Linked DNA regions of Homo sapiens: all the other regions are linked to region 2. The links come from fine-mapping of genetic effects on gene expression. A gene starts in region 2. Each other region holds a variant in brackets. All regions are shown on one strand. Distances are from middle to middle. Region 1 holds the start of LOC105373746 (a long non-coding RNA gene). Region 2 holds the start of SP3 (Sp3 transcription factor). Region 3 has its middle 25 kb from the start of LINC01960.

Evidence for each region. PIP is the estimated chance that this variant, and not a neighbour inherited with it, causes the effect.
Region 1: its variant is the best candidate, but not a certain one, in a credible set for the expression of SP3 in whole blood (INTERVAL, PIP 0.75).
Region 3: its variant is the best candidate, but not a certain one, in a credible set for the expression of SP3 in tibial artery (GTEx, PIP 0.65).

What each region holds. Positions count from the first base shown.
Region 1 is chr2:174,055,652-174,065,999 of GRCh38, reverse strand. It overlaps LOC105373746 (a long non-coding RNA gene), which reads left to right and starts at 3,369. Exons shown (of 3, transcript XR_923589.3): 1 at 3,369-3,596; 2 at 3,966-4,082; 3 at 5,069-5,250. RefSeq lists an enhancer at 2,486-3,105. The variant TC/C (reference allele first, on the strand shown) is at 5,371.
Region 2 is chr2:173,959,875-173,968,763 of GRCh38, reverse strand. SP3 (Sp3 transcription factor) reads left to right here and starts at 3,391. Exons shown (of 7, transcript NM_003111.5): 1 at 3,391-3,599; 2 at 4,211-4,359; 3 at 4,881-5,003. The coding sequence starts at 3,593. RefSeq lists silencers at 3,144-3,213, 3,714-3,993, 4,324-4,813, 4,944-5,193 and enhancers at 4,054-4,876, 4,877-5,700.
Region 3 is chr2:173,995,200-174,005,547 of GRCh38, reverse strand. No RefSeq gene overlaps it. Among named protein-coding and RNA genes, the nearest start is that of LINC01960, 25 kb to the left of the region's middle. The variant C/T (reference allele first, on the strand shown) is at 5,430.

The DNA.
Region 1 (10,348 bases), 97 kb before region 2:
AAAACTTACTATAAAGCTACAGTAATCCAAGAAAGTGTGGTGCTGGTGAAAAAATAGATTAAAAAAAAAATCAATAGAACAAAATGGAGAGCCCAGAAAAAGACCCACATAAATGTAGTCAACTGATTTTTGACAAAGGAGCAAAGGCAATAAAATGGAGCAGAGATAGCCTTTTCAACAAATAGTGCTGGAACAACTGGACATTCACATGCAAAAAACTAAATCTTGACATACAGACCTTACTCTTTTTACAAAAATTAACTCAAAATGAATCATAGACCTAAAGGTAAAACCCAAAACTATAAAACTCCTAGAAGATAACACAGGAGAAAACCTAGATGAGCTTGGGTTTGGCGATGACTTTTTCTAGATACAACACCAAAGACATGATCCACAAAAGAAAGAATTGATAAGCTGGCCTGCATTAGAATTAAAAACTTCTCTGTGAAAAACTGTCAAGAGAATGAGAAGACAAGCTACAGACTGGGAGAAAATATTTGCAAAGGACATATCTGATAAAGAACATTTCTGGACTGTTATCCAAAATATGCAAAGAACTTAAAACTCAAAAATAAGAAAACGAACAACCCAATTCAATGTCTTGAGGATAGGTTGGAGATGGCCATTAAACACTCTTGGGTAGATATCAGACTGGGTAGATACCAAGACCAATTGTTGTGTCTCAATTGGAAGCTCAGAGGAAAGTTTGAGGAAGCAGGTATATAAATTTAGAATCATTACTATATGGATATTACTTAAAACCTGAGGGCCAGAATAGCTCACCTTAGACAGGTGAGAACAGAAAGAGGAGAAGGCCCAGAAATGAGCCTGATGCAAAAGGTCTCTGGAAAGAGGAGGGGCCAGCAAATCGCAGCAAAAAAACTGCCGAGGCCGGGCGCGGTGGCCCATGCCTGTAATCCCAGCACTTTGGGAGGCTGAGGCAGGCAGATCACTTGAGGCCAGGAGTTCAAGACCAGCCTGGCCAACATGGTGAAACCCCATTTCTACTAAAAGTACAAAAATTAGCCAGGCGTGCTGGTGCACAGCTGTAATCCCAGCTACTCAGGAGGCTGAGGTGGGAGGATCCCTTGAACTCAAGAGGCAGAGGTTGCAGTGAGCAGAAATGGTGCCACTGCACTGCAGCCTGGGCAACAGAGCGAGATCTTGTCTAAAAAAAAAAAAAAAAGAAGAAGAAGAAGAAGAAGCCAATGAGAGAGGAGCAAACCCAGAGAGGCTAGTGTCAGAGCAGCTGGGAGACAGAAACGGTTTCAAGAAGACAGCAAATGTTGCTGAGCAGTTGAAAAAAATGAAGATGAAAGATGTTCTGCTTGAGGGTGGGGCACGGTGGCTCACGCCTATAATCCCAGCACTTTGGGAGGCTGAGGCGGGCGGATCACCTGAGGTCAGGAGTTTGAGACCAGACTGGCCAACATGGTGAAACACCATCTCCACTAAAAATACAAAAATGAGCCAGGTGAGGTGGCAGGCGCCTGTAGTCCCAGCTACTCGGGAGGCTGAGGCAGGAGAATGGCGTGAAGCCGGGAGGCGGAGCTTGCAGTGAGCCGAGATCACGCCACCGCACTCCAGCCTGGGCGACAGAGCAAGACTCCATCTCAACAAAAAAAAAAAGAAAAAGAAAACAAGAAAAAAAAAATCCAGCACGTTGAGAGGCCAAGATGGGAGTATCACTTGAGGCCAGGAGTTCAAGATCAGCCTGGGTAACATTGCAAGACTGTCTCTATCAAAAAATAAAAACTAAAAATTAGCTGGATGTGATGATTGTGCCACTGCTTTTCAGCCCGAGTGACAGAGCAAGACTCTGACTCTAAAAAAAAAAAAAAAAAAAAAAAAAAAAGGTGCTGCTGGACAAGTTCTGTTTAATTTGAAAGCAAGTTCAGATTACTCTTTTGAGAAGTTTTGCCAGAAAGGGGACAAGAGAAATGGAAATGGGGGAGATGGGAAGCAAAGAGGTTTTTTTGTTGGTTGGTTGGTTGGTTGGTTGGTTGGTTGGTTGGCTGGCTGTAGATTTTTTAGCAACGGAGCGTGCCGGGGCATGTCTGGATGTTGAGGGGAATGTTCCCGAGAGGAGGAGAGCTGGAGGCTGATGAAGCAAGAGGGAGAGGGGTGACGAAAGAGACCCAGTCCTTAAGAAGCTACAGGGGATGAGAACTGGAGCATAGGTGGAGGGACTGACAGTTGGTAGAAGCAGGAATGCTTCCAGTAAATAGGAGGGAAGGCAGGGCTAGATGTGTAGCTTCCATTTTCTCAATGAAATTGGAGTGAACGCCATCAGCAGAGTGGGTGTGGAAGGCGTGGGTGTGAAGGGAAAGGAGAAATTTTGACACAGCCCTCTTCAACGTGCCCTGTTGTTTTTTGTTTTTTGAACCTAGATTCCAAGAGCTAACACAGAACCCTGCAGGGCCCCCCGTTCATGAACGCTTTAGTTACTGGATTGTGTTGCTTTCACAGGGTGACAACATTTTATCAACCTGGGCGGTCTACAGCGCTTCCCAGTGGGGGTCAGTCCTAGGAGAACCAGGCCCTCTGACTCCTCTATGCCTGTTCTTTACTTTGCTCCAGGGAATAAAAAATACGAGGGTTTCAGTGTTCTCTCATTAGGCTCTGCCTTTTATCTTCCCATTTTTGTGATAAGATTCCTCAGTTCTTGCTCTCAAGAGGCCCGCCAAATCTGAGCAGTCTCTATTTGGGGCAACTACACTTCTTCGAGAAAGTTCCATCCCTTTCGTAGAATAGAGCAGTCCTGGCTGCTGATATCAATGATATAAATGGGACAGCGGCTGCGGAGAGTGACGTGTTTGGTTCCCGGCCTCTCACTGCAATCCTTTGAAATCCCATGGAAGTGCAGGCAACAGACCACCCCTTGAACTTTTGAGGCTCTTGTCTGAGTGGATTAACTAACCCTGTTTACTAATCTCTCTCTTCTCCCCCTGAGGATCCTTGTCTTTAGAATTCAGTGTTCTTTTTGCTTCAAACAAAGCCTCCAGTTTGCTGCTCTTCTGATCACAGCATGAGAGCAAGCTGATTTGCTTTGGTCAAATGTTGTGTGTAAGTGATTTCAGCCATTTGGCTTATTGTATTTGCGTCATTTTGGGGTGAATTCCAAGGACCTTGGGACATCATTACTTTAAACTTGAAAATAGATTTAATGAAGAACTGTATTTCTAGGGAAGAGACTTGGTCAAGTTTTATTTCCAAGGAAGGAGCCTATTCTGTGACTTAACTCCTACAAAGCCACGTAGGATATCTGGTTTGACTGAGGGCTTTATCCAATTTCACAATATAGCAAATGGAAGATGTATTTCCTTATTATGCACTCATTGAATAGTAATGATGAACTCAGGCATTGGGACCAGGGTCCCACCTTTCACCTGTTAATGCCTCCAGACATCACAAACACTATTGATTGTTTAACCATCGCCGTCTCACAAACCCACCACACCCCCCTTTTCCTTGCCAACAAAATCTCATTTTGCTCCATAGACAGCGAGTGTGCTCAGCTTCAGAAAATGAATCATTATGGCTCTAAATTCATCATGATATCCCACTTCTCCTTTGCCAGTGATAGGGCTAGGCAGGTGAGCCAGCTCTGGCCTGGAAAGTATGAGGGTCTGGGGAGCAGGCTTGGCAAAGCTTTGCCAGGGAAATTTTTCCTCCCTGATACAAAAAGGGAGACAAGAAAAGCTATCCATTTTGTCTCTTTTTTTTAATGTTTTGAGACAAGGTCTTGCTCTGTTGCCCTGGCTGGAGTGCAGGGGTTGCTCACTGCAACTTTTGCCTCCTGGGCTCAAGGGATCCACCCGCCTCAGCCTCCCAAAGTGCTGGGATTACAGGCGTGAGCCACGGTGCCTGGCCAAGCTATCCATTCACCCTCCTCCTCCTGCGAGGGCTTGGGGTGAATTCCAGGGCCCGCTGGACATCATTCCTTTTTTTTTATTTGAAAATAGATTTGATGAAGGACTGTATTTGGAGCTATGGAAAGGAAAACCGAGAGGCAGAGAAGCAGCCCCTAGACTGTTAGCCAATCCGGGTTGGAGCAGCCGCCCACAGACGTCATCTTTTGTGTAAGAATTAAATGCCCTCATGATTTCAGTCACTTGTAGTTGAATATTCTGTAACTTGTGGCTAAAAGCCTCCAGATACATCTGAGTTCACAGAACTTGCTATGCTCAAGAGCATATATAACTAACACCTTCATCCTGGCTTAGCAAAAACAATTCCCCATCCCCCACTTGGCTGTAAAGCTATGGTTCCTTACTAGCTTGTTAAGTACTGTTAAATACCGAAGAGTATTACAAAAGCAAAGTGTTTTCTAGAACTAGATTCTTCTGGTTTTCTAGTGCAGTTTGGCTAAGTGGGATATTAAAAATAAAATAATGTTTTAATAACTCATCTATAGAGAAGAGAATGTCAGTATTTCTAAACAACCATCTTATTTTATTAAAAAAATTTTTTAGAGACAAAGTCATGGTCTGTCACCCAGGCTGGAGTACAGTAGTACAATCATGGCTCACTGCAGCCTCAAACTCTTGGTCTCAAGTGATCCTACTGCATCAGCCTCCCAAGTAGCTAGGACTACAGGCGCATACCACCACCATGCCCAACTATTTTTTTATTTTTTTGTAGAGATGGGGGTCTTGCTATGTTACCCAGGCCGGTCTCAAACTCCTGACCTCAAGTGATCCTCCCACCTCGACCTCCCAAAAGTGCTAGGATTATAGGCATCAGCCACTATGCCCAGCCTAAATAGCTATTTTAAGGTTTTCTTCTTTAAAATGTTTTTTAAACTTTCTGGTTCAGAATTTGAGTTCTTAACTGGATCAAACTTTGAGAATTATTGGAAACCCACCATAAACAGTTACTCTTGCCTGAGGCAGTAACTTTTTTTTCTGTAAAAGCTCACCTGTATTATTAAAACCCAAAATATTCCTCATCCTTTATGGCTTGGCCTTTGTTAACCTTATTCGTCTATCACTTCAGCACTTTACCCATATTTATCACTGGAGGCTTAAATTTGTTGATATTTTTTCACACTTTTTGTCCTTTCCAGTTCCTTCATATCTTTACACCTTGTGTCCCTGAAAATGTGGGAATATGGCCAGACCTCATCGTGGGGACTGCTAAGTCAGTTTCACAGATGACAACAATGTGGAGAGTTACAGAATCAACTGATTTATCAGGTTTTCTGTTTTCATATCTTTTCCTGAGAGTACAATTAAGGCATTTATATTAAAATCAGTTCCTGAAATCCCCTGATAGTAACAAGCAAAAACAATAATAAAATAGCACTTACTCAGAGCCTAAAGTAAACCATGCAACAAGCCCAAATGAAAGAAGCATAACTTTTTTTTT[TC/C]ATTCTGGGTTTTAGCTTCTAAGGTGATCCAGGCAGATTTAGTTATTGGCAGTGGATACAGGTTATTTGCTTAACTAAATGAATTAGGGGCAGGGTGTGGGGAAGAAGGAGGAGAAAGGAGGGTGATAAAAGAACACTGAACAAGTTAGGACGGAACTTTTACAGTGCAGATATGCAGGCTGATGAGCATTTCTGAAAGTAGCTTAACATATTTTCAGATTCCACATCAAGTACTGATTGCATTAAGCAAGATGAATAATTTATCTCCTTCATCACTAGAGCAAAAACTGATAGTGTAAAATTTATTATATTTTTTTTTTTTTTTGAGACAGGGTCTTGCTGTGTCACCCAGGCTGAAGTGCAGTGGCCCCCATCACAGCTCACCTCCTGGGCTCAAGCGATCCTCCTGTGTCAGCCTTCTGAGTAGCTGGGACTACTGGCGCATGCCACCATGCCTGAGTAATTTTCGTATTTTTGGTAGAGATGGGGTTTTGCCATGTGTCCCAGTCTGGTCTCAAACTCCTGGGCTCAAGCAAACTGTCTTCCCCTGTCTCCCACAGTGCTGGGATTACAGGCATGAGTCACTGCACCCAGACTGTTCATTAGATTTAACAAGTATGCATGAGCCCAGGCCTGCACCAGGCAGTAAGGACTATTGACCTACTGAAACCCAGGCCTGTAGATCAGAGATTTAAAAGTTGTTTCAATTTTACTGGAGATTCTAATTCAGGGAGGGGATTGAGTGATGACATGGAGAGGCCATGTCATTGGAAGAAGAATTTATGAGTTGTATTTGCCAAGGGATGAGGGCACATCATGCATGCAGGGCCACATGGGGAAGCACCAGGTTAGGTCAGGAAGGAGAAGTGGTGAGAAGAAAGCCCAGGCCACAGCGTTTATTGCGGTTGCCTTGGGAAAAACAAGGCGGGGCAGGAGAAACAGTGTAGGATTGGCTATTTCAAATAATTTGGGCAGGCTCTGGGCTATAGGAGTGGTCTGTAGTTGTCTGGTACCTGGCCCTGGGTGATTTCGGGCAGAGGAAATACTGGCTGGTGTGTAAGAGTGAGATAAGGAAGTGTTTGGGAGTATGGACTCAAATGATTGGTTAGAGGGTTTGTAATATGATTTTTGTGCATCTGGGAAACCTGGATTGCAGAGGAAATAGAAATAATCATGGCCATTAATTTGGCCTTGTGACTAATGAATACCAAACAGACAAATACAGAATCTAAGAAAACACAAAACAAAAGTCCACATGATCAGAGCGTCTCAGTGAAGATGAATCATCTTACATAAACACACAGCTTAGAAACTGGCCCATGCACCAGGCAGCACGTGGAAAAACAATTAGCCACATGGCTATTCCATGTCTTCATTCTAACAATGTGTAGTGAAGCATTTGGTCTTGCCCAGAGGGTGATCTGGCCTTTGCCCTCAGCTTCTGGGATTAACCTCAGTCATAACTTATAAGAGTATCTTGGTTTAGGGGATGAGATAACCACACTGGATCCTGGGGTACATACTGGCCATGCCAGAAAGACCCAGCAGTGTGATTTAGGGTGAGAATTTGGGTCATGTAGTGTCAGCTGACTTTCAGAATGAGATCAGCCATGTGGGCAATCAATAAACCCATCAGGCCTACAGAATGAAGCTCCAATAAAAACTCTGGACACTGAAATTTGCTTGTACCTCTTTGGTTGACAGTACTCAAGGTGTATCCTCACACACAGATGCCAGGAAGGTAATGTGTTCTAACTCCACAGGAGAGGACAATGGAAGCTTCATGTTTGATAAGCCTCCCAGACTGCCCTGTGTGTCTCTTTCTTTGGCTAATTCTAATCTGTATCTTTTCTCTATAATAAATCAAAACCATGAGTATAATAGCTTTCAATAAATTCAGCGGGTCCTCCTAGTGAATTATCCAATCTGAGAGTAGTTTGGGGGAATCCCCCAAAGTTGAGGTCAGTGTCCAAAATGAAAGCAGGGTTAGGAATTGTGACCTCAGCCTTTGCAGTTTGGCTGACTCTGGGCTTTATTTTTTAAAAATAAAACCAAAAAGAAAGATATTAGGTAAAAAATGGAGGGTTCTCCTCCCTTCCCTGGCTTTCTCCAGAGGATTTCTCTGTTAACTGTTTCCTTCTGGTTTATCTTTCCAGACATTTTCTGTATAAATATAAACATGTATGCACAGTCTCTTTTTAAATCATAAATGAGATTGTGCTCCATAGCTTTCCCTGAAACTTCCTTTTATCACTTCCATGTCATGAGTATTTTTTGTGTCAGCACATCTGGACCTATTCCTGAGCTTTTTGATGGCTGAGTGATATTTGTTTGTAAGGCTGAACTCTCCTAAGACAGGAACCAAGTCTAAGGGATCTTGAGAGATCACGTGACTTCATGTGCATAGAGCTCCTAGAAGAATGCTGGCACAGAATAAGCAGGCACCACGTGTTTGTTCTCATTTATTTGTTTATGTAGCCAGCCCTCTCTTGTGTACATTGAGATTTCTAATTTTCCCATTATTCCCAAAAGGCTGCAGTGAATATGCTTGAGCTTCTACATATACTTTCACATTTAGGATAAATTCCTGGGAATGGAATTGCTGGATCAAAGGGTATGCATTGCTGGGTGGTGTCAAATTGCTGTCTGAAACGGTTGTACCATGGCCGGGCACAGTGGCTTATGCCTGTAATCCCAGCACTTTGGGAGGCCAATACAGGCAGATCACTCGGGGTCAGGAGTTAGAGATCAGCCTGGCCAACATGGCAAAATCCCATCTCTACTAAAAATACAGAAATTAGTTGGGCATGGTTGTGCGCACCTGTAGTCCCAACTACTTGCGAAGCTGAGGCAGGAGAATTGCTTGAACCTGGGAGGCAGAGGTTGCAATGAGCCAAGATCATGCCACTGCACTCCAGCCTGGGAGCCAGAGGGAGATTCTGTCTTAAAAAAATAAATACATACATACATAAATACATAAATACATAAATCAAAACAAAATAAAATAAAATAAAATAAAATGGTTGTACCAGTTAACGTTCCCACCTCACCCCATGGTGTGCTCGATTCCCAGACCCCCAACTACTGAGCATTATCAACCTTTTTAGTCTTTACCAATCCAATCGATTTTTAACATTTCAATCTCCTTGTGGTTTAGTTTGCATTTCTTTACTGGTGAAGTTGGCTATCTGTTTTATATATTTGTTCATTTACTTTATTGAACTTTTTTTTTCAGGCTGCTTGTTCGTGTACTTTAATATTCTATTTGGTTTACACAGATTTCCCCATTCCATTGGAAACTGATATCTTGAGCGAGATTCAGGCAACATGAAAAGGTACCGGGATGCTTTCCCAGCCATCATTTCCATGCCATCGTGACTTCCACTATGTTTTAAATTTCCTTAAGGAAACAAAGCAAAGCAAAATGAAAAACAGTGAAGACTGGAAAGAGGGATTAATTTTCTCTGGTTGGTTGAGGAGCTTTTATTTGTTTGTTTCCTCCTCTCATCTAAATAGATATCCTTTATTTTACCTTTATTTTAGGAGTCTCTCCATTGCTCCAGTGTGGAAACCAACCCACCAGGAACTGAGTTATTTTATTCTTTAATTTAAATCAATCTGACAAATAAATATCCTTTAATTTCTCAACCCAGCATAGATGATGGTATGTAACAGACTGGTAAACCACTTTTGTGTTTTGGTAAATTTTTTGCACTTTTATAAGGCTGAATTTCCTTACCAAAAGTAGTTTGTTTGACTTACATGTTGTTTTAAAGATATATCTATTTTTTTATTTTTAGGGTTTTTTTTTTTCAGAGATGGGGTCTTGCTGTGTTGCCTAGTTGGGGTCTTGCTGTGTTGGCTAGTCTCCAGCTCCTGTGCTCAAGCAATCTTCCCACCTCAGTCTCCTGAGTAGCTGGGACTATAGGTGTGTGCCACTGTGCCCAGCTAAAGATGTATTCTTGATTTTCAAGTGCATTTCACATTTTGCAAAGAATATTTGCATAAACTCCTCAAGAATTTGGTTTCTTCAAAAAGGAAATGGCCGGGCACGGTGGCTTATGCCTGTAATTCCAGCATTTTGGGAGGCCAAGGCGGGCGGATCAGGAGGTCAGGAGTTTGAGACTAGCCTGACCAACATGGTGAAACCCTGTCTCTACTAAAAATACAAAAAAAAAATTGCCAGGCATGGTGGTTTGCACCTGTCGTCCCAGCTGCTAGGGAGGCTGAGGTGGGAGGATCACTTGAGCCCGGGAGCAGAGGCTGCAGTGAGCCAAGATCATGCCACTGCACTCCAGCCTAGGTAACAGAGCAAGACCGTCTCAAAAAAATAAACAAAAAACAAAAATGGAGAGAACCCAAGATGTGGTCCTGCCTTTCTTCGAACCTCCTTTTCTTCTAATATTGACCTCCTAATTGGGGGTCCTTGTTTGTCAACTGTACAGCCTCCTTCTTTCCTCCTCTCATTTCTCAGAACTTGTGACAGTTGGTATATGGTTCATACATACTGGTTTATTTCACAGTTTTACATATTCAGATCCATCTTTTCTCCCCTGTGAAGTTATAAAGCTCTTATAGATTAGGTGCTGTATTAGTTATACAGTGCTGCATAACAAGTCACCCCAGATTTACATCTTCAAACAACAATAACATTTATGACCTAGCAGTTTTTGCAAGCCAGAAGTCGGTGGAAGCAGCTCATCTGTGCACAGCAATCCAAGGGCCGGGCTGGAGCTGCAGACAGTACTCCCGAGGTAGCTCACTCTCGTGACCGCAAAACTGGAGCTACTCAGTTTCTCACCATGTGGACTGTTTGGTGGAGCTACTTCCCAGAGCCACTCAGGAGCCCTCATAACATGGCATCTGGCTTTCTCCAGAGTGAGTGACTCAAGCAAGAGCAAGGCAAAAGCCATAGGTCTTTTATGGCCCAGGCTCAGGAGTCAAACACTGTCATTTCCAAAATATCCTATTGGGTAC
Region 2 (8,889 bases):
AAACAATGGCCAGCACAGTACTTCCTCAAATCGTTTTGGAAGAAAAAGTATAAATAATATCCAGCACTGTGATTCTCTCCCTGCTAAGCAACTGCAATTTTGGGTTACTATGTAAATGTAGCAGTAGGTGCCATTGAGAGGCAGCTTTCTAATAAGAAAATAAGTATTTTAATTAAATTGTATTTCGGCCGGGCTCATGCCTGTAATCCCAGCACTTTAGGAGGCAGAGGCGGGCGGATCACAAGGTCGGCAGTTCAAGACCAGCCTGGCCAACATGGTGAAACCCTGTCTTTACTAAAAATACAAAACTTAGCCAGGCATGCTGGCGGGCGCTACGTGATCCCAGCTACTGGGGAGGCTGAGGCAGGAGAATCACTTGAAGCCGGGAGGCGGAGGTTGCAGTGAGCCGAGACCATGCCATTGAAAAAAAAAATTTGTATTTCAAGATTTGACTACAATACTGAAATAGGTAGGAAAAGGTGTTCTTTCAAGAGACTATCTTCATTTCCAGCCATTTTAAAAAGCTATTCCATGACAATAACTCAAGTGTGGTCTAAGAGGGTTCTCTGAATCTGACTAAAGTAGTGAGTGATGCTTTTGGTATATGCATCTTTTGTTAAAAAATTTAAAAAACGGATACATATTTGTACATATTTATGGGGTACATGTGGTATTTTGATACATGCATACAGTGTTGTAATGATCAAATCAGAGTGTTTAGGGTATCTATCACTTTGGACATTTTTTTTCCGCCCCCTCTCCCCTGTCACCTTGAACATTTGTCATTTCTTGTGTTGGGAACATTTCAAATCTTCCCTTCCAGTTATTTTGGAATATAAAATATATTGCTATTTACTATAGTCACCCTACTGTGCTATTGAACACTAGAACTTATTCCTTCTATCTAACTGTATGTTTGTACCAATTAACCAACCTCTGTCACCCTACCTCCATATGTATCTCTTAAAAGCATCGCATCAAAAGCAGTATAGTTAGTTCAGGTAGGTTTTTTTTTTTGGGACAGTCTCAGTCTTGCTGGAGCGCAGTGGTGCCATCTCGGCTCACTGCAACCTCCACCTCCCAGGTTCAAGTGATTCTCCCGTCTCAGTCTCCTGAGTAGCTGGGATTACACGTGTGCGCCACCAAGCCTGGCTAATTTTTGTATTTCAAGTAGAGATGGGGTTTCACCATGGCAATCAGGCTGGTCTCGAACTTCTGACCTCAAGTGATCTGCCTGCCTTGGCCTCCCAAAGTGCTGGGATTACAGGTGTGAGCCACCACGCTCAGCTAGGCTATTTTTTTCTTTTTCAGAAGTGTTTTTTTTGCTTGTCAAAATGGTCTGCGGACGTGCCGTCCCCACCCCCCAAAAAAGAAAGAAAAAAGACAATTCATGTCTCATATCATTTGCCAATTGGTATCAATGAAGAAACGAATTTAACTCCTGTGGCCAAGTACTTTGCTCTCAAGGTGGCTGGACTAACACTTTGCAAAAAGGGTATGGCGATAGCGTAGAACATATCCCCACTCCTGAAAAAAAAAACAAAACAAAACTGAAAATGCCTGAAATATCCTTTCTAGGGAAAGAGCTACCTTCCACCCAAGAGATCCGGGTAGGAACAGAGTGATAATAGTGACTTCCCTTCCTCCCTCCCAGTCCACTTATTTTCACCTGTCCCGCTCTTCAAGGCACCCATCTCTTTTTCCATTTTCCCCACCCCAAATCAGGTTATTTTGTGACTTTTATTTCCTTAAAAGTTTTTGTTGTAAAATAGTACATAGGTTATACGACTCAACTTTGAAAGTGACTTTTCCACTTAAATATGAGACTACAAGGACTATTAGAAGAGATGAACCCTATTCTTGGACTCAGAATTTTGAGTCTCGTTTCCGCATGTTTGTGGTTTTTAGGTTAATTCCCTGGAAATTTGATCTTTGTACAATTAAGAGCAAAGTAACCATACAATGTTTCTGATCCTGTCAGCATAGGCGGTTAAGTGCTTTGGAACTGGGATGTAAACTCAGTATCTCACAAATGGATTACCTATTAAGTTAGGACACACAAAATCTGGTTAAAGTGCTTGGACTTCACAACCTCATCCACCAGCACATCACATATCACACAAAATATAATAATCACAGTAATGGGAAAACTGAATCTTGAGCCAGATTTCTAAAAAACAGGTATTGTGGACAGTGTTTCCACCTCTTGAATTTAACTTCTTTCTTGGCAACTATACTTGAAGGTAACAGGGAGAGATGTCTCTTAGTTGGCAAAACACACACTTAAAACCTGAGCATTTTCCCCCAGGATGACAGCAAGATACCAAGGATGCCAAAGAAGGAAGGAGTGTTAACCTAATCCAGTAAGAGAAACAAGATTTTAAAATACAACAAAAATGTTCCAATGGGGGAAAAAAGGTAGTTCACCGGTTCACGACTTTAAAAAACGTTGGCAGTGGTTGATGGGCTTATTTCAGGAGATATCTGACTTGGTACCAAGAGGATAAAGAGGCCGGGAATAATACGTTTGTGCAGCAAAATGGTTATGTGACCGATTTTTTAAAACACAGAATTCTGCCCCACTGAATACATACACATACCACAAGTAAAATGAAATATACTTTTAAGTGCCCGTTTTGGTGCCACTGGCCAAAATTAAAACTCTCCTTCCGTATGTGAGGTGACTTGAGATTTCTTTTTTGCTTTAAATGCCTGCCTTCAGGGTACGTGAAAGTGGGAGACCGGTTGGAAAACTGGGGCTAAGGGGGCTGGGAGCGAGATGGCTGTGACTGAATCAGGAAGCTGGATGTGAGAGAGAAAAATCCTCCTCCAGCCTCGGAGGGGGTGTCTCCCCTAATACCAGCTCCCTCCCCCCGGGCTCGTGGGGCGGGTCTGGTTTGCTCAGTAGCGGCAGCGGCCGCAGCAGCAGCCCCGGGGCTGAGCAGCGGTGGCCTCCTGGCAGCGCAGGGAAGCGGCGGCTCCAAGAGCGCGAGGCCCTGGGGAGATCCGGCCAAGACTGCTGCCGGGATGGAGGAAGCGTCCAGTGGAGCAGGAGTCACCGGGGACGAATTTCCTCCCCAGCTCAGCTCCCCTACAGCTTGGCTAGGCCTGCTCCGAGCGCCTGCAAGGTGGAGGAGGCCTGCGCCTCGGGCCTGGCAGCGGCAGCCGGCGAGGGAGGCGGGCACAGCGGGGTAACCGGCGAGCCGTAGCCGCTCTCGAAAACCTACGCTGCCACGGCCGCTCATTGTCTCTCCCCTTCCACCCGGGGGCAAACAGGAAGCGCGCCGCCTGGCAGACCGACGGACAGGCGCCTGGACCAATGAGCACAGCCGACAAAGAGCACGGCGGCGAATGAGAGCCAAGAAGAGGGGCGGGAGTTCCGGGCGGGCTGTCACCCTCTTCCCCCCTTTTGGGCTGGAGGCTCCACCTTTTGTGTTTCCCGCACAGTCAATCAAAATAGGAAAAAAAAATCCCCGGACCGCTCCGGCCGTGTCCGCCGCCGCTTCCCGCATCCTCTCCCGCCGCCGCCGCCTTCGCTCCTCACCATGTGTAAGGCGGCGGGGAGCCCCGCCTGAGGTGCCCTAAACACACTATGACCGGTACGTAAAGCCGAGAGAGCAACCCTTGCTGCTGCCGCCGCCGCCGCTGCCGCCGACCACAGCCAGCCCGGGGCCGCTGCCGCCGGTCTCGGCCCCGTGTGTGCGACCGAGTGTCTGTGAGAGGCAGAAAGCTGCACTCCCCTGCGCCTCCCTCCCCTCCCCGCCAGCCACCGTCCACCCCCGAAGCCCCAGCAACGCCGTCTCCCCGCCAGGCCCCGGGGCGGGCGGCCCGGTCCGCCGGGAGCGCATCCCCCTGTGTGCGGGCGCGGGCGGGCGTGTGTGAGTGACTGACGGTGCGAGAGGAGCGAGCGCGAGTGAGAGCGAGCGGCGCGAAGGGAAAGGGGAGGAGAGGAGAGGGGGCAGGGGCAGCGCGGGGAGGAGGAGGAGGAGGGAAAGAGGAGGAGGAGGAGGGTTACAGGCAGCGGCGGGCGGGGGCAGCAGCAGGAGGGGAGGAGGGAGCCGCCGCCGCCGCCGCCGCCGGGGGGCGGGTGGGGGAGGGGAAGGGGCCTGGGTCCGGGCTTTGGGAGTAATTTCGCTTCGGCCCGCGGGCCCCCTCCCTCTCCGCCACCCGCCTTCCTCCCCACCCCCACCCCCCCGCGCTGTGCCTGCAGCTCCCGAAAAGCCCGTGAAACAAGAGGAAATGGCTGCCTTGGACGTGGATAGCGGCGGCGGCGGTGGCGGCGGCGGCGGCCACGGCGAGTATCTGCAGCAGCAGCAACAGCACGGAAACGGTGCGGTGGCGGCGGCAGCGGCGGCCCAGGTGAGGAGCGGCTGAACCCCGGCCCGGCTCCCCCCTCGCGCCGCTTTCTCCTCCCCTCGCCTCTCCCCTCCCTCCTCGCCTCACCCCTCCCTCCTCGTCTCTCCCCTCCCCTCCACTCCCCTCCCCCCGCCCCGGGAGCTGCCCGCCCGAGGCGCCAACGCTCCGACCCCGCCCGCGCCGCCCCGCCTCGCCCGCCTGCCGCCTTTTTGTGCGCGTGTGAGTGTGGGCCCCAGCGTGCCCTCCCGGGGGTGGGTTCCGGGCGGAAGGCGGAGGCCCGGCGCGCAGCCCGCCGCCCGCCTGCCCGCGGACCGGGGAGCCGGGGTGCTTGGAGCGGGGGACGCCAGGCGTGGGCTGGCGGCGGGACCAGGAGGAGGAGGAGGAGGAGGAGGAGAGCGCGGGCTGGCGCTTGCCCGGGCGCAGTCGGCGGGGACCGAGTCGTACTTCCTGTGCGAAAGGCGGCCCGACCCTAACCGCCACCCCCTCCCCCTGTCTCCCTCTCTGAACCCGCCCATTGGGGGTAGGACACTCAGCCGTCACCGCTCGCTCTGCTGGCCGCTACCTGCAGCAAGATAGGGCCGCCATCGCCGGGCGACGACGAGGAGGAGGCGGCCGCCGCAGCCGGGGCCCCCGCCGCCGCCGGAGCGGTAAGTCCCGCGCGCGGCCCGCCCCCGCCGAGGCCGGGCGCCCGCCATCCCGGACCCGTGGCGCGCCTGCCCAAAAGGCCTCCCCGGCGCCCGCGCTTCCCCCGACCCGCACGGGCCGCTGGGCTCCAGGGCGCCCTTTCCTGCTCTTTCGCATCCCGGTTTGGATCTGAAGCCAGCCCAGGCTTTCTCGAAATTGTCACTGCAGCACCTCGCGCAAAATCTTCACAAAATGAAGTCTGAGAGGGCGGGGGTAGAGGACTCCAAAATGGATGTTTGAGCAATTCATATCAGTGCTGAAAACTCCTTCGCTTAACACTACAAAATTTTCAAGCACAGCCTATCGGCCATAGATAGTATCAACTAGAGGCAATGTCTTTAGTTTTTATTATTTTTGAACCTGGAGCATTTTCTGTTGGACGTTACAGGATCTTACTGCTTTAAATCATACATTATTAAAAAAAATGAGGGTTTATTCTTTGAATTACCCTTTTGTATGCAGGAGTGAAGACTGCTTTTTTAGTTGACCATTCAAAATCGTTGAATTTTAGTTTTTGCAGACTACTAAAATTTGCAGTGACTTTTTTTTTGTAAGGGGGGTAAATGAAACATTTAGCAGCCTTTGAAATCAGCAAGTTGCTTAGATAGTACTTTAGATTTTGAAACTGAATATAACAGTGTTAGAAAAGTATGTGTAAGGAATTGTATTTACGTGCATACTAGTAGTACAATACTTATAGCTGAATTTGGTTGGCAAAAGTATGTTTTCATTTTATTACGACTGCTAGTCAGGTAAGATATGGTGGGATTCTTTCTGTAGTGTTTTCAGTGTCTGGGCAAGGGGAGGAGCTCGCCTGTGTTATATGAGGGGTTAATACCAATAGGATAGGAACAGTTTTTAGACTGTTAATTGTGAATTTTACATTTGGGTCATCACTGTTGTGTAGATTTGTTCACCTATTAAAATAATGAAAACCCTCATTTGAGTGTGTGTGTGTGGTGGATCATAGGAATTGATTTGTGGAGTGATACTTTCAATAGTCACTGAAGACAGAAGTTTGGTATTTGGTATAGTCTACAACAAATGCTTAGTATGTCCAGGTATTTTTTTTTTTTAAGTTAAACCAATGTTAAGCTATTACTGGTAAATAATTTGTAATTTTAGTGCTTCGTTATAGGGGATGTGAATAGTTTTAATGTCTTGTTTTTTCATAAGCAGATTAACATGTAAAAATGTAAAATTATATTAGGCTTTGTTATTTTTAAATACATTTATGGATTGGTACGCCTTCTGTTCACCTCATTTCAGCTTCGCTGAGAGTTGGTAGATTTTTTTATGAACTGTATCCCTCTAGTTCCAAAGTGCCAAAACAAATTGACTGTATCTTAAAAAACTACTGCATAAGTAAAATTAAAAAGCAGATTGCTTCTCCTGATCTTTTTTGTATTTCAAATGGAACAAAACTTTTCTTGTAACTGTAATTTGTAAAGTTTAGATATCAGTTTACAGATGGGGGAGGGGAGAAGGAAGGAAATATGGGTGAATAATATGTGTATGTACATACATATGTGAGTCTGAGGCCCAAGGATAGAATACTGTCTCCAACCTTAGCCAGCTGTGGCCATATACTTGTAGGGAAGTTTCCATGCTTCTTCAGCTGCTTTTCTGAATTACCAAATCACTCCTGACAACACATATTCTGCCACATGAAGACGAACTAGAATCAATCTGATAAATCTGAGATTTATCAATCAAATACATCATAATTTGCCAATCATAGTAAAATGAAAATAGTTTTGCCTAAAAAAAAAAAAAAAAAAAAAAAAACCCAAACCATATATTTATGATGTCTGGTACCTGCACCCAAGATTTTTCACTTTGAGTAAAATTGGTAAGACTGGCTTGTGTGTATTTGCCTTAGCAAATAGAAAATTTGCTAAAAATTTATTTTTCCAGTGCAAATATGAACTTAAGACATCTTTTCAGCACATCTTAGAAAAGGAAATTCACATGAGTTCATGGGCTTAGATAATCTTTTATTACTCAAATGACTGGGAATTATGAGAGGTTATAGCTGTGTTTTTAAATAATTGTATTTTGGAATAATTTTAAATTTATAGAAAAGTTGGAAATACAGAACTGAGTAATCTCATACCCTTCATCCAGCTTCCCCTAATGTTAGGATAATGATGATACATTTGTCCAAATTAAGACATGAACATTGGTATGACATTACTAACCAGACTTTGTTTGCGTTTCACCAGCTTTTCCACTAATGTCCATTTTCTCTTCTGGGATCCAGTCCAGGATTCCACATTGCATATATATTGTTGTGTTTAAACAAGTGGAAATATACACATACAGATGAACTTTATGCCAGTTTAGCTTGGTATTTTGAGATTAAAAGGGCCTTGAAAAGCCAATCAACTGTGCTGAAGATTGCTTTTAATATTTGGATTTTGAATTTGGAATTTGTCATAAAAGAGGATCCTAGCCAAGGGTGTTTGGTTACCCACAGTACATTGCTGAAGAAGTCTAGTCATAAAGCAGTCTCGTATATAATGTCGTACAACATGGACTCTGAAAGATGGTTTTATAGCAACGCTCCTTTGTACTTAAGTTGTGGCTAATTTTAGTAGTAAACCAGGAAATAGAAAAAAGTAGACCTTTGTGCAAGTATTAACTTTGACCAGTTTGCATTTATGTGAACTTGTGGATTATTAATTTACTTCATTTTTACTTTAGTGGAATAAAATAAGTGACTTTTATTTTTATTTTTATTTTTTTGAGACAGAGTCTCACTCTGTCGCCCAGACTGGAGTGCAGTGGCGCGATCTCGGCTCACTGCAGGCTCTGCTTCCTGGGTTCACAGCATTCTCCTGCCTCAGCCTCCCGAGTAACTGGGACGACAGGCGTGTGCCACCATGCCCGGCTAATTTTTTTTTTTTGTATTTTTAGTGGAGACAGGGTTTCACCGTGTTAGCCAGGATGGTCTCGATCTCCTGACCTCATGATCTGCCCACCTTGGCCTCCCAAAGTGCTGGGATTACAGGCGTAAGCCACTGCGCCTGGCCTAAAATAAGTGACTATTATGAAAGTGATTGCTTGATCTTTGGTTTAGGTTGTAAATTTAGTGTTCCTTAATTTGGCACATAAATGTTGAGCTAAAAAATAAGTAATAGCTTACTTCAAAAAAGTTATTTTGCCATTATTTAAAATAAGACCTGTGCTGTCATTGTAACTAATTCATTGGGTAGGGTAATTCTATTTGAAGTCTGAGTTCTTTTAGTGCTCTTTGAAGATTTTAAGAAACTTGAATATTTGCCTAAGTTCTTAATTTGTTTCCACCTCAGCTTCACACCTGTTCTTGTTTCCAGTTATACTCCTTCCTTTCCTATTTCTGGCTTTCGTAAAGGCATTCGTGGGAACTAAGTTAATAATCATTTCCAAATGCTATGCAATAGGTGGTGTGAATTTTTTCTTTTTCCGTTTCCACCGGTATATTTGTATGTAGAGAGACTTAGAGTGCCTTAGTTACAACTTTTTACTGTACTAATGCCAACATTCATGTTAGATGGTGTTTTGTTTGTTTTTTGAGAAAGGCTCGCTTTGTCTCCCAGGCTGGAATGGAGGTGTGTGATTACAACTCACTGCAGCCTCAACCACTGGGGCTCAGTTGATCCTCCCACCTCAGCCTCCCTAGTAGCTGAGACTACAGGCACGTGCCACCACGCCTGGCTAATTTTTGTATTTTTTGTAGAGATGGGGCTTCGCCATGTTGCCTAGGCTGGTCTTGAACTCCTAGACTCAAAGGATCCACCTGCCTAGGTTTTGTTTGTTAATTGTCCGGTAAGAAAGGTACTGAGAGAAACACTGGTGGATTTTTAA
Region 3 (10,348 bases), 36 kb before region 2:
ATCCTGTCTCCCTAAGTGCTGGGATTACAGGCACAAGCCACAGCTCCTGGCCGCTTCTGATGTGCTAATACCACTTATTATATCTCAGTTCTCTTAGTCATATTCCAGTTATGTCTCACAGCACGTCTGTGTCACTCCTGCCAAGGCTTTGCATACAGTCCAGGACTATTTTCAGTTTTAGTGACTAGAAGAATCACCTGGGGGCTGCTGGTTATAAAAAAGAAAGAAAAGCAGACTTATGACCCCTGTCTCTGGAGATTTTGATTTGTAGGCCTGTGGTATCCAAGGTATCTATGATATCTTGGTATCTTGGATACCTGTGGTATCTTGTGTGATCCAAGAATGATCACATTAACTAAGCACCACAGGTACTATTAACCTCCTGGATTATCTGTTGATTCTTACCAGTTTTTTTTCTTGAGCAGAATCCAAATTCCAAGCTCTGGAGACATCAAGCTTGGTCTTACTTTGGAAACACTCCCAGCATTTCGGATTTAGGCATTTCCTCCCTAAGCATACAGAAATAGAGTGGGTGTCCTGAGCCAGTCTCATTCATTCATTTGACAAAACTTTTTGAGTATCTGCTAGACCCTGTTCTAGGGTCAGGGAAATGTCAATAAAACAAATAGACAAAAATCCCTGCATTCTAGCCGGGAAAAACAGTGAGTTAAATCCATAAACATACTAGGTAAGCAGTACTATGGGGAAAAAATAAGCAAGATAGAAGATGTGAGTGTGGGGAACTGCAGGCGTCACAGTGTTTTATTTTTTAATTTCTTTTTGTAAAGATGAGGTCTTGCTTTGTTGCCAAGGCTGGTCTGGAACTCCTGACTCCAGTGATCCTTCTCAGCCTCCCAAAGTACTGAGATTACAGATGTGAGCCACCACCCTGGGCCAGGTTGCAATTTTAAATGGGGTGTTCTAAGTAGGCCTCACTGAAAAAGTGACTGAAAAGTGAGCAGCGTGGCTCTCTAGAAAAGTGTCTCATGCATAGGAGACAACTAGTGTAAAGTCCCCAGTCAGAAGGTGAACACACCTGGTATGTTTCCCAGGAACAATTTAGAGGCCAGGATGGTTGAATTGGAGTGAGAGAGGGAGAGGGTGGCTGAGCTAAATTCAGAAAGGTTACAAGGGAGCCACATCATACCCTTGGAGTCCATTGCAAGTTCATTGGCTTTTCCTGAGTGAGATGGGGAGCCACTGGAGGGTTTGAGCAGTAACATGCTCTGACTGACTTTTTTTTTTTTTTTTAGATTCAGAGCGTACCTGTGCAGGTTTGTTACATGGATATATTGTGTAATATTGTGATCTGAGCTAGTGAAACCGTCACCCAGTGAACATTGTACCCAATAGATAATTTTTCAACCCTCACCACCCCCCACCCTCCTCACTATTGGGCTCCCCAGCGTCTGTCGCTTCCAATCGTTATCTGGCTTACATTTTTGAAGTATGACTCAGGCTGCTGTAAGGGGAACAGGTGTGGAAGGAGGGAGACTGTTTAGAAGGCGAGCCGCTAAGCCGGGTGGGAGACATTGGTGGCTGGCAGTAGGCTAGTGGCAGCTGACTTGAATGTGAGAGAAAAGACTAACAGACTTGAATGTGAGAGAAAAGAGATGTCAAGGAGGATCCTCTTCAGGATAAACCTTGGAATTCTGGCTTGGAATGCTGAGCAGAAGCATCCCCAAATGATACAGCATATGGCCTGCAGGTTTCTGGCCACCATCCTACACCCAGAAGCAGAGCCAGCCTGACGGTGGAGCCAGTGCTGCATGTGGCAGGGCAGAGTGGCAGAAACTGGTCCTGAGGACAGCGGTGAGCCGCTGGATCGACACCCGAAGCCCGATCTACCTCTGCACTTTCAGTTACATCACCAAGGAGCTCCCTTGGTTATTTTCTGTTACTTGCATCCAAAAGCATGCTCACTGCTATTCTGATCCGGAGTCGCAGAAGTCTCTCAGATGCAGTTTGCCAGAGAAACTTTTGGAAAGACTTTACTCCTACATACACAGTCTTGATGGACTTGGGCAGATAATTGGGAGAATTCCCCAGGTTACCAGGCAGAGTCTCTTGCTCTCTACCTTCCCTTTCCTTCAGTCAGGAGTCTTTCTCTGTACTGGCCTGCCCAGTGTTGGAGGTGGGTGACACAGGCACTCCTGTAGCCACCACAGTTGCAACTATGCTGAGTTGCATCTGAAGCCCTGAAGACCAGCACAACATTGGGGTTCACCCAAGGGCCATGGCCAATCTGCGTGACTGCCACTGGTGTTATTCAAGGCCAAAGGCCACTTTAGTTGCCCAGGCGGGAGTGCAGTGGCACGATCTTGGCTCACTGCAACCTCTGCCTCCCAGGTTCAAGCGATTCTCTTGCCTCAGCCTCCTGAGTAGCTGGGATTACAGGTGTGTGTCACCACACAGAGCTAATTTTTGTATTTTTAGTGGAGGTGGGGTTTCACCATGTTGGCCAGGTTGATCTCGAACTCCTCACCTCAAGCGATCCACCCGCCTCAGTCTCCCAAAGTGTTGGGATTACAGGCGTGAGCCACTGTGCCTGGCTAAGACTTTTTAAAGAGCAGTTTTAGGTTCATAGAAAAATGAAGAGGAAAGTACAGATTTTCCATATATCTCCTGCCTCCACGCATGCACAGCCTCCCTTACTATCAACATCCCCTACCAGAGGGGTTGGTATCTGTTACAGCTGATAAACCTACATTGACACATCACTATCATCCAAAGTGCATAGTTTACATTAGGGCTCACTTATAGTGTTGTACATTCTAGTGGTTTGGACAAGTGTATAATTATATATACTTTGTATATTATTATGCAGTGGTGTCATACAGAGTATTTTTACTGTCCTAAAGATCCTTTGTGTCCCCACCTATTATTCCTTCTTCCCTCCAAACCCTAGCAACCACTGATCTTTTTACTCTCTTCAAGTTTTGCCTGTTCCAGAATATCATGTAGTTGGAATCATACAGCATATAGCCTTTTCAAATTGGCTTCTTTCACTTGTTAATATACTTTTAAGGTTCCTCTATGTCTTTTCATAGCTTAATAGTTCATTTCCTTTTAGTACCGAATAACATTCCGTTGTCTGGATATATACCACAACTTATTTATTCATTCACCTACTGAAGGACATCTTGGTGGCTTCTAAGTTTTGGCAATTATGAATAATGCTGCTATAAACATCTGTGCATAGGTTTTTGTGTGGACATAGGTTTTCAACTCTTTTGGGTAGATACCATGGAGTGTGATTGCTGGATCATATGGTAAGAGTATGTTTAGTTTTGTAAGAAACTGCCAAAATGTCTTCCAAAGTGGTTGTACCATTTTGCATTCCCACAGCAATGAACAAGAGTTCCTGTTGTTTCACATCCTTGCTAGCATCTTATATTTTCAGCGTTCAGGAGTTTGGCCATTCAAATAGATGTGTAGTGGTATCTCTGTTGTTTTAATTTGCGTTTCCCTGATGACATATGTGGAACATCTTTTCGTGTACTCATTTGCCATCTGTATGTTTTCCTTGGTGGGTGTCAAAGTCTTTGGTCCATTTTTTAATTTGGTCATTTGTTTCCTTATTGTTGGGTTTTGTGAATTCTTTTTATATTTTGGATAACAATCCTTTATCAGATGTGCCTTTTGCAAATATTTTCTCTTTGTCTGTGGCTTGTTTTGTCATTCTTATTTTTTTTTAATTATTGTAATTGAGATGGGGTCTCACTATGTTGTGTAGGCTGGTCCTGAACTCCTGGCCTCAAATAATCCTCTCACCGTGGCCTCCCAAAGTGCTGGGATTACAGGCATGAGCCACTATGCCTGGCTTATTCTGTCGACAGTGTCTTTCACAGAGCAGAAGTTTTAAATTTTGAAGAAGTCCAATTTAGCAATTATTTATTTCATGGATCATGCCTTTGGTGTTGTTTCTAAAAAGTTATTGTCATACCCGAGGTCATGTAGGTTTTCTTCTATGTTATCTTCTAGGAGTTTTATAGTTCTGCATTTTACATTTAGGTCTATGATCCCTATTGAGTTAATTTTTGGTAGGAGTGTAAAGTCTGTATCTAGATTAATTTTTTTGCATGTGGATGTTCTGTTGTTCTAGCACCACCTGAAGAAGCTTTTCACAGTTGTACCAGCACTAGACCTCAGACCTCAGACCTCAGACCTCAGGGACGACTTTTCCAAAACATTCTTTCTTATGCCTCTCCCATCTCACTGAATTGGTCTCTTGGCAAATGCCAAACTCCTTAGAGCACTGTATCAGGAGCAGGGCCAGACCAGCTCAGCATGGCAGAAAGCCTGAAATTATTAGCACAACATCCCCATGTGATAGGTAGTAGTTTATTGCCTGTATTCTACAAAGTTGAAAACAGAGATTAAGGGACTTACTCAGGGTCAGAAAAGTCTTCTATTTCGAATCTAAGATTAGTCTGTCTGATTAACTAATTGCAATCCGTCTGTCACATAGAAGAGAGTAGGGCTTTTCAGGAGGAGACAATCTGGCTGGCTGCTTCACTGATTGGCAATTTATTGATACGGACACCACAGATCTGATCCTCAGCTTTACAGATACAATAACTACTGTGCCCTGTGCTCAAGGAGATTAAACTAGAAAGGATCAATTCATCATATCCAAACTTATAAGAGACTGATGTGTAAATCAGTTTGTCAGATTATTTATAATAGGAAGTGTTTCTCACACGTGAGAACCCGTAAATTCCTGAATATGTCCCAACTTGAGAAACACTGCATTCAAACTTCCATTAGGAGACTTTAGTTTAGATCACTTGACCATAACAGTCATGAATGCAAATCCAGCATGGGCATTGATGTTATGTGGCAGTACTCTGTAAAAAGGTGGTGACACTTGTGTTAAAAATTTTATATTATCTTTAAAATGAAAACGCCACATTTAAAAATTCTTCTAAAGAATTCATGGACCTCTGAAAATATTATTTAAGAATCCAACTTTAAAAACAATGCAATAAGACAAAGGCTTTGCTTGAAAACTGTGGTTGTTTATAGATACAGGATGCTCTAAAGCAAGCCCACTCAGGAAACTGAGTTGCAGATTAGAAGGTGGGTTGGTGGGAGTAGAAAAAGAACAGAGGGAGTTTGCTGTTCCCAGGGAATACGGTACTCAGACAAGGGCAGTTACTTATCCTGTCTGCATTTGTGGCACAAGTATTTCTGTTTAAGATTCTACCAGTCAGGCCAGGCGTGGTGGCGCACACCTGTAATCCCAGCACTCTGGGAGGCCTAGGCAGGTGGATCACTTGAGCTCAAGAATTTGAGACCAGCCTGGGCAACATACAAAAATTAGTCAGGTGTGGTGGTGCACGCCTGTCATCCCAGTTACTTGCGGGGCAGAGGTAGGAGGATTGCTTGAGCCTAGAAGGTTGAGGTTGCAGTGAGCCAAGATCATG[C/T]TACAGCACTCCAGCCTGGGTGACAGAGTGAGACCCTGTCACAAAACAAAAAACAAAACAAAACAAACAAACAAAGATTCTACCCGTCATGGAGAACAGAGCACCATCTTTCTTGCATTATGGTGAAGAAGCACCAACAAATTATTACTCACTAACTTCCATTTTCCTAGACTTCATTTTGAAGCTGTGAACCCTCCCTGCCATTGCATCATTTCTTGGTAAATAGGATGCCCTTTCCACTTGACAAGGAAGAGACTTGGACCAGATCCGTGAACTCCAGAGCCCCTGGCTTTTCCAATTAGCATGTTGCTAGTTTCTCTCATTGAACTAAATCATGAGGGATCCTTAAATACTACAGGAGACAGGAAAAGCAACCTTCTATCTCTTTCTCCATTTTATCCACAACAGTCTGAGAATCACTCATTCTTCTCAAATGACTTCTTCCAGTGTTCTCGACTTACCCCTTTTTCGGCATCTGCCTTTGACTGACCCTCCCCTTTCCCATCTACAGGCTCAGTGGAGTCAGTGCTAGGAACTAGGGAGCACCCACCGCCCACTGCCACATACTCCCTCCTAGCTCAGGAGCCGGATTGGACTAGAGCCAGACCCAGCACTGGGCTGCCTCCAAGCAGCCTGGGAGAATGCCTGCTGTTCCCAGGCAGTGATTCTGGGCACGGCCTTCAATTGCCAACTCTTCCCAGGCCCCTCAGAGCCCAGAAAGGGCATGTAATCCCTTACACTGCTTGGCAAGTGCCTGTTTGTTCTCTAGCCTGGTCAGAACCAGGGAGAAGGGTGCCTGGCTAGTTGCGGAAATGAGAGTGCTGCCCAGGAGTGCTGCTGGGGAGCTTGTGGTCGGTGGACCCCACTCTAACCTGTCTGCTATACCTACTCAGTGCTGACACCCGTGCAGGTGCCACCAGTGTGCTCTTCAGTCTAGCCGGGCTGGACTGCTGCTATCACCTTTATCTGCCCTATCACTTCCTACCTGTGCATGCGGCTCATCTTCTTCCCACAGCCTGGACTGCTTGTCCATTTTAGCTCCTCCTCACCAAATCCTCCCCACCCTTGAAGAGCCACAGCTGAAACGAGCCCTCCAGGAAGCCTTCTATGATCTACAACCAGAAAGAATCCTTCTTTTTTTTTTTTTTTTTTCAACTGCCATACCCATTTTCCTGGACCTGTCTTCAAAAAAAAAAACAACATTCTATTATAGCTATTTCAATTACAGCTATATTTCAATTATAGCTATAATCTATTTCAATTATAGCTATTGATGTACATTTCTTATCTATTATACCAGGAAATAAAGTAGGCATAAGGGCATGTCTTACTGACTTTGTTTTTCCCATAAGGTTCTAAACATTGTAGGTACTTAATCAATATTTGCTGAGTGAATAATAAACGAGAAGGGTTGTGCATATGGTGCACAAATGACAGAAGCCTGGGCCCTTCACGAGTTTCCCTTCTGAAGCTGCCTCTAAGCAGGGCTTCCGGGGATTCCTCTGACTTCCTCACACACTTGCAGCTAAGGGGATCCATTGCAGCGGGGAAGGGAGCCTCCAGCTCCTCAATCCAGCAGGAAACCAGTGTTCCTTCCGACTGGTCAGTGCTTAGGCCACCCAAGTTGTGAAATATTTTGAATATCAGCCCTGCATGCAAGGAAAGGCAGCACTCAACCAGATGACATTAAAGAGACACTGGGTACAAATGCGTGTTACGGCAGTAAGACATTCTCATTGAAGGAGGTGAGAGAAGATGGGGAAGCCGGGTGTTGGAAGCTGGAAAGCAGGGGAAATCATTTCACCTTTTGTTAATTACTTGTGTAACTTTGGACAAAAGAGTACTAGCCTGGAGCCAGAGACCTGAGTTCTAGTCTGGTACTGACACCTGCACTTGGGTCTTGGGCAAAGTCACTTCATCTTGTCACAGTTAATTAGCCTACACAGTAAAAGAGGATGGTCAAGGTTATGGTGAGATACAGGGCTGCTTGGTGAATGTAGAAAGTCATGAAGCCTGGAGAACGGACAGGTCAAAGGGAAAGTGTTTATATGTTGAGCTTTCCTGTGAAAGAAAGTGTCCATTTTGTGTGTGTGTGCTGTACTTTAACAGGATACATTGGCTCTCCACCAAGCCTTGGAATTGAGCATCTGCCAAAAGATGGAGAAAATAAACAGGAGTATTCAGTGTTAACCTGACATTTCAATACCTAATGTGCCCAGTGGTCCAAAGTATTTTCGCTTGAAACAAGAAGTACTTCTTGTCAGTTCAAATCACAGTTAAACTGTGCTCTTTTTCTTTATAAAGATAGTTTTAAAAAATTTAAGTTCTTTATCATTTCTCCTCTGAAAGGGCTCACAACACACTGCCAAGTGTGCCCGTGAGCACAGAGTAGGTTCTGTAAAAGTTTGTCATCATTTATTTTATTATCATTGTTTTATGCTTTTGCTTAAGAAAATCACTTGTTGATTATATTTTTCTGTGCAAATAGAATTGCTTAATAGAAGAAAAGGAAATAAAGCAACTGTCAGCAAATTACCCAAAAGCAGAAGTTGAGTTTCTTTCACGTGAGTGTTCAAGTGTTTCAGCCACACACTCTAGTCTTGGCAGCTCATGATTGGCAAAGGCCGGAGCTGTGTTGAGCAAAGTCAGAAGTGCAGACAGCTGAGCAGCCAGAAGCATGCAGGCAGGCGGTAGACACGTGGGGTGGTGTTGGGGATGAGTCTTCGTTTGTTTGTTAAGACAGGATCTGGCTCTGTTGCCCAGGCTGGTGTGCAGTGGTGCGATCTCGGCTCACTGCAATCTCCACCTCCTAGACTCAAGCCATCCTCCTGCCTCACTACAGGTGCACACCATCATGCCTGGCTAATTTTTCTATTTTTTGTAGAGATAGGGTTTCACCATGTTGCCCAGGCTGGTTTTTAACTCCCAAACTCAAGCAATCTGCTCACCTTGGCCTCTCAAAATGTTGGGATTACAGGCATGAGCTACCACACGAGGCCTGGGGCAGAATCTTTGAGCAAGGCCACTTAGTGGCAGCGAACACCAACCACTCACAAACTCAGTTATAATCCATGTAACAGAAACTTGCTGTGGACTTTCTAATTTCTCAGACATGTGTTGTAGTTCAGGAATCTTGAAAGCTCCCCATGGGAACTTTCTCTAAACTGGTTCTGTTCAAGATCAAACCCTGACCTGCTGACTTGTAAGATAATTTTCTGCATTTGAGAAACATTGGAATCTGAAAGTCTTAAAAATAAGTATATGATAATAGCTTACAATCTGGAATAGAGATTTACAGTTTCAATAATATGCACTTAAGCTTGAATTGTTCCCAACTTCTTTTTTTCTAGATAGGAGCCATAAATATAGTACCTAGTAGGAAATAAAGGCTGATAGGTGAGCAGTGAGACAGTTGATTGTTTTTCTGGCAAAGAGAATTTTCATAACTTATTCATACACTACTGGATTAATGCTTAGACTAGCTGTTGGCTGTTTATCACCAACAAAAATTTGGTTTCTGTTTTTAATCTTGATAAGAGAGCAGTTGTTATTGTTGTCTTCAGAGAAAGAATGGTACCTGAGAGAGAGTGGCACCAACAAGTAGGGCCAGAGTTTTTACAAGGGGAGCTTTGTTACACCAAAAGGATTTGGGGGTTGGTATTTTAACACATTCTGCCTCAGAAAATTAGGTTTTCTAATGGCTTTTGTTGTTAAATGCAAGTGGATAAAATATGTGTCTGATTAGTTTCATGATAAGAGGGCAAGTCCCCAACTTTGCTTATACCAGATATAAGCTGATGCATTGGTTTTGCCTTAAGTCTGAAGTTTTAGGAAGGACTTTAAATGTAAGTATAAGTAGCAACATAGACACTTGTCTCCTTCAGGTCTTTCATCAATGTCACATCTCAATCAATGCCTACTTTGACCATCTTATTTAAAATTGTGATATCACACGCAGCCTCTACACTCTATTGCTTTTCTTCATTGCACATATCACTTTCCAACCTACGAATTTACTTATTTGTTACATTTGCTAGCTATTATCTGTCTCCTTCTACTAGAAGGTAACCTCCGCAAAGGCAGGGTTGCCTGTGTTATTCACTGACATATTTTTAGTGCCATAAACAGTGCCTGGTTTGTAGTAGGCACACAGTAAACATTTGTTGAATGATTGGATGGACATCTAAATATCTGCACTTTCAAATCCTCTTCAGATCATAGAACACTACCAATATCCAACAACCCTAAGGTGCATTTCCTTTTATTTTTATTATTATTATTTTTAGGTGCATTTCTTAAAGACAAAATCCCTGTGGGTGTATGTGATCAAAGTATAGTCTGAGTACTGGTGTTGGAACACAAATGTTTGGGGTTCCAGTCATTCTTTGAGCGTTTATGGAAGCAGCTAAGTGTCAACTTTGTTTAGGACATACGGAGGAAGCTCTCTCAGTTACTAGTAAGTCAAGGCAGCATATATTTGTGAACCACTCATTTCTGTGTACCTGGTGCTGAACTCACTGTGGCACTTCCCAAAAAGTAGTGCACTCTGCCATTGTTCTCACCAAAGTTTGCCATGTGGCTGGGGAAGTTTCCATGTAAGGGCTGCCTTACGGATCTTGACTCTTATTAGCAAGAGGATGCACCTAAGTTTGAGAAAGGAACTGCTCTAATTTGAGGGTTTTTTTCTCTAGGCCAGTGAAGATCATTAAAAGCATTTGCAATCACTTGCTTAGACCAGTGGCTGGTTCCTTTGACTTGATGACCAAAAATTTTTCAAAGTAATTATTTGTGTAGTGAGACTGAGCTGAATATTTTCAAATTATCTCTGTATCCAGGTGCTCTTGTGAGGAAGATAGCTTGCATGTTTCCCTGCTGTCCTCTACTTGCTGTAAGTGATTCAGTCATAATTGGATGCCCAA